Regions from separate parts of the Homo sapiens genome. Here region 2 is linked to region 1. Evidence: fine-mapped expression QTL. Tissue or cell type: thyroid. Region 1 holds a variant in brackets; the other region holds the start of a gene. All regions are shown on one strand. Distances are between the middles of the regions.

The links. PIP is the estimated chance that this variant, and not a neighbour inherited with it, causes the effect.
Region 2: DCBLD1 starts here. The variant in region 1 is fine-mapped to the expression of DCBLD1 in thyroid (GTEx, PIP above 0.99).

The regions. Positions count from the first base shown.
Region 1 is chr6:117,459,930-117,462,693 of GRCh38, forward strand. No RefSeq gene overlaps it. Among named protein-coding and RNA genes, the nearest start is that of DCBLD1, 21 kb to the right of the region's middle. The variant A/G (reference allele first, on the strand shown) is at 1,542.
Region 2 is chr6:117,480,974-117,483,737 of GRCh38, forward strand. It overlaps DCBLD1 (discoidin, CUB and LCCL domain containing 1), which reads left to right and starts at 1,701. Exons shown (of 15, transcript NM_001366458.2): 1 at 1,701-1,920. The coding sequence starts at 1,809. RefSeq lists a silencer at 1,577-2,156 and enhancers at 2,517-2,596, 2,607-2,656, 2,687-2,736.

The DNA of each region.
Region 1 (2,764 bases):
TCTTGCTTTTTTTGCTGAGCAGTATTCCATGATATGCATGTGGCACTGTTTAACCACTCATTCATTCATTGAAAGACATCTGAATTGTTTCCAGAATTTGGATATTATGAATAAAGCTGCTATAAACATTTGCGTACAGGTTTTTATGTGAATATAAGTATTCCTTTCTCTGTGATAAACACTTATGAGTGTGATTGCCGGTTTGTATAGAGTTGCATGTTTAGTATTTTAAGAAACTGCCAAATTATTTTCCAGAGTGGCTGTACCATTTTATAATCCCACCAGGAATGAATGAGCATCAGTTTCTCTGTCTTCACCAGTATTAGGTGTTGTCACCATTTTATTTTAGTCATTATGATAAGTATTACTGATAACATATAGTCTTAACTTGCACTTCCCTAAGCTATAATGATGTTCGGCATCTTTACATGTTCTTGTTTACCATCCATATATCCTCTTATGTCATATGTTTCTTCGTGTCTTCTTCCCATTTTCTAATGGGATTGCTCGGTTTTTTTACTGTTGAATATTGAGAGTTCATTATATGCTCAGGTACGAGTCCTTTGTCAGATATGTGGTTGGAAAATATGTTTTCCATGCTGTAACATGTTTTTTTATCCTCTTAGGCTTTTTTTTTTTTTTTTGCAGAGCAAATTTTTAAAATTTTTACATAGTTCCATTTATCAACTTTTCCTTTTATGGATTGTGCATTTTAAGTAACAAGTCTAGGAATTTCTACCTAGCCCTAGACACTGAAGATTTTCTCCCATGTTTTTTTCTAAAATTTCATAGTTTTAACACTGAAGATATAATCCATTTTGAGTTAATTTTTGGATAAATTGTGTTTGTTAAGGTTCTTGTTTGTTTTTGTTTTTGTTTTGCTCACAATACGTACACCAACATAGACCATATCCTGGGCCATAAAACAAACTTCAATCACTTTAAATAATTGAAGTCATACAGAATGTGTTTTCTGACCACCATGAAATCAAACTAAAAATCAATAGCAGAAATATCTCAAGAACTTAGAAAAAGAGGAGCAAACTAAAACTAAAGCAAATAGAAAGAAGAAAAGAATAAAGATAAGAACAGAAGTCAATGAAATTAAAAACAGAAGGCCAGGCGTGGTGGCTCATGCCTGTAATCCCAGCACTTTGGGAGGCCGAGGCAGGTGGATCATCTAAGGTCAGGAGTTCAAGACCAGCCTGGCCAACATGGCGAAACCTCGTCTCTACTAAAAGTACAAAAATTAGCTGGGTGTGGTGGTGGGCGCCTGTAATCCCAGTTACTCAGGAGACTGAGGCAGGAGAATCCCTTGAACCGAGGAGGTAGAGGTTGCAGTGAGCCGAGATCACACCACTGCACTCCAGCCCGGGTGACAAATGTGAGACTCCATCTCAAAAAAAGGAAAAAAAAAATTAAAGACAGAAAAACAATGGAAAAAATAGGTAAAATAGATTTGGATCTTTGAGAAAATCAACAAAATTGACAAACCTTCAGCAAGACTGACAGAAAGAATAGAGAGAATATATAGATTACCA[A/G]CATCAATATATAAAACAAGGGATATCATTACAGATTTTGCAGACCTCAACAGGAAAATGATGAAATACATTACTATAAACAACTCTACACACATAAATTTGACAACTTAGATGTAGTGAACCACTTCCTTGGAAAACAAGAATTACTACAATTTACCCAATGTGAAAAAGATAAGTTAAATAGCCCTTTAGCTATTAAGAAAATTGAATTTATAATTTTAAAGCTTTCAAAAAGAAGTCAGTAGGCCCAGAAGATTTCACTGGAGAATGCTACCAAATATTTAAAGAAGAAGTAACATCAATTATACACAACCTTTGGAGAAAAGGAGGGAACGCTTTCCAATTCATTTTATAAAGCTAATTTTTCTCTCATACCAAAACAGACAATATAAAACAAAACAGAAGAAACAACTTTCAGGCCAATATTTCTCATGACTATATACACAAAAATCCTTAACAAAATATTAGCAAATAGAATTCAGCAATATATAAAAAATGTACACCATAACTATGTTTATTCCAGGGATGCAAGGCTGGTTCAATATTTGAAAATTAATCAGTATAGTTCACCATATCAACAGACTTAAGAAAAACAAAATTTACATGGTCATATTATTTGATGCAGGACACACATTTGACAAAATTCAGCAGCCACTAATGAAAAAAACTTTCAGAAAAATAGATATAAAAGGGAACATAAAAGGGAACATTCTCAACTTGATAAAAAAAATCCACAAAAAAATCTATAGCTAACATTATACCTAATGGTGAAAGCATGATGCTTTTTTCCTAAGATTGGGTACGAGATAAGGATGTGTTCTCCTCTTACTGTTCTTATTCAACAGAGTGCTGGAAGTTCCAGTCAGTTCAGTAATGCAAAAACAAAAACAAAGCAGGCAAGGAAAAAAATAACCAAAACAAGCAAAAGAAAAGAAAAGAAAAGCATATGTAAAGGAAGAAATAAAAAAATAAGACTGTCTCTATTTGTAGATGACATAGTTGATTATGTAGAAAATTCCAATGAACCGACCAAAAATTTCCTAGGCAGCATAAGTGAGCACTTGAAAACAAATATGTGTTCTGCTGTTAGTTGGTGAAGTGTTCTATAAATGTTAAATAGATGCTGTTCATTGATGGTGTTGAGTTCTTGTATGTAATTTCTGACTTTTTGTACAGTTGTTCTATCAATTGCTGAAAGAGGGGTGTTGAAATCTCTAATTATA
Region 2 (2,764 bases), 21 kb after region 1:
CAAAGTATCGTTCTGTGTTTTTGAGTGTAAGAATACTCAATATTTTTATGGGTGTGAATTTACTTTCTGTTAAAAAATGATAAAACCTACCGTTTATTAGGTACTTTCTCTACATGCTAGAACCCAATATACACATTCAGTTAGGTACTTTCTCTACATGATAGAACTTAATATACAAATTCAGTATACACTGAATATACACATATATACCCAGTTTGATTCTGGACCTCAGCTCTTCAACAAAGCTGAGGTCCAGAATCAAACCGGGATCCCCTCCATTTCTAAAGCCCAAGTTCTTTCATCTAAGATATGCTGCCTCAGAGAAAGCAAAGCCCCAAAGACAATCTCATTTGAGATTTTATCAGCTTGTTTATTTAGTTAAAAAAAGAAAAGGAAGAGGAAAAAAGGAACGCATGTATGAAATGAGTCTGTCCAGGGTATCCAAAGATCACGAGGGGCCAATGTTTGCCATTGGAGGGGCTGTTGCTTCCTCTCCGCCTCCACGCTTCCCTGCGCTGCACCTCTAGGTGAAACTTCAGCGTGCCGCGCGGTGGTGCGAAGGTGAGGGCAGCGCGCAGAGGAAGTAAACGGGGACTACAGGGGACCAGAGACGTGAGATAGTCCTTAAAATACATATCTAATCTGTCCTCGTCATTTTCCACTGCCACCACCCTATTCAACTACTCGGTGATAACCCTGTAATTCTCCAGTCTCCAATCTGTCCTCCCCAAACCCTTCTCCGCAACTCCTCAAGAGGATCATCGGGTGGAGTCCTTCCCCCTTCTGAACCTTCCGTGGCTGCTCACTACTCCGAGGACCAAGTTAAACATCCTTTAGGTTATTTAGCTGCACGTCCTGGCCCCTACTCTGTACACTAGCTTCTACATCTGGCCGTGTACCCACCTGTTCACTGTGCTCCAGCTACCTGGCCCTTTCCTCCTTCAGCTTCTTTGCACAACTTGTCTGTTTTGGCTCCTGCTTTAATCTCAGCTTTGATGCCACTTAGGCCTTTCCTAGCTGATTCCCGCCCTCACCCCTGTTACCCGCCATCTAATTACAGCTCTCTAAATGTGCTTCAACAGCACCTTTCATGTCACTGATTGCAATTTGCATTGAATACTTGCCTGATTATTTTTGTCTGCAAGTGCCACATGGGTTTAGCCCTGCTCCTGACAAGCACACTGCTGAACTGAGTAACTTTTGAATGAATGAATGAATGAGTGAATAAATCAGTGAAGGTCCTACTTGGCACTGTCATCATCCTATCATCAAAATATTTCGAGTCCCTCGGTGTTGCTATCCCTGGCATGCCCATCCCCGCGGGCTGGCAAAACCCTGGAGGGGGCAGCCTCCCAAGGCACCGCCGCGGGCTCAGCCCATCTAGGAATGACTCCCGCACCACGCGGCGAGGGGCGGGTCCGGCGGCGAGGTGTCCTGCTGCCTAGCAGGTTCACGTGTACTGGTGCAGGTGGGGAGGAAGGCAAGGAAGGAGCGCAGCAGGGCGCGCCAGATACGTGGAGGGGAGCGCGGGCGGCGCCTCGCTCGCCTCCGGCTTCGCCGTCGGTCACTGCCTGGGAACGCGACTTCCTCCTCTAGGGGCCGACGTGCGGGGCGGGGCGGGGCCGGGCGGGAGACGCCCCCGCAGGGCTGGGCTGAAAGCCGCCCCAATGGGATTCGGTGCGGGGCAGCGACTGCGCCCCGTCCCGGCGCCGCGCTCGTCCGCAGAGGAGGCGGCCCGGCCCGGGCAGCTGCGGCTCGGGATCCGTCGAGGGGAGGCCGAGCTTGCCAAGCTGGCGCCCAGCGGGGTCATGGTGCCCGGCGCCCGCGGCGGCGGCGCACTGGCGCGGGCTGCCGGGCGGGGCCTCCTGGCTTTGCTGCTCGCGGTCTCCGCCCCGCTCCGGCTGCAGGCGGAGGAGCTGGGTGAGTGGAGCGCGTCCGGCTGGCGGCGGGACCCGAGGCGCCAGGGGCGGGCTGAGGGCTGCGGGGCGGGCCGGGCCGGGCCGAGGGCTACGGGGCGGGCCGGGCCTGGGGGGACGGAGCGCGGGAGGAAGTCGGGCTCGCCGCCTGCCATCCGCGGAGTCCGGCTCTACCCGCGGGGCTGGGGGTGAAGTAGGTTACTGCATTCCTTGTCGCTCCCCCACCAAACTCCTTCCTTCCCCCAAAACCAGAGAATTAACCTGGCGTCTCTGCACTTTCTCTCCGCCGCCCCCCAGCCCATTTCACTTAGTTTCCAGACTTCCTGACTCTGCTGGCCCCGTGAGAAGTGACCTGACCCCGAGGGTCGCCTTAGGGGACAGCCGTGTGCAGGGCCAGTTCTTTCCAGCTGCCTTTTGACAAAGCCGCTCCTCGGCCGGCGCTGGGCCCTGCCCTCCCTGCCGTCGCTCCTCCCGCGCGGAATTGGAATCCCGGCGTGTGCGTTCGGGGCTCGTGCGGAATGGCCGGGGCACGTTTGCCGAGGTTGGCCTTGGACGCTGGCGAGCAGGCGGTGCTGCCACCTCCTCTCGAGTGTCCTGCTGGCGCCGCAAGTTGGAATCGTGTGGCTTCCTGTGTATTTGAGCCGGTAGACTCTCAACCAGGCTGCTTTTTCTCTGGAGCTGGTCTTTGACTTGGAGTTAGACCTAATTAACCCACAACCGAGTTTACCCTCTGCCTGTCCAGCATATTAAAGCAGCAACCCCCTTTACCAGCCCTGGGTGTCCCTATTTCATTCGTCCTCATTAATTAGTGCTTTTTTTTTTTTAATAGCAAGGGCCAGCTTTCTGCC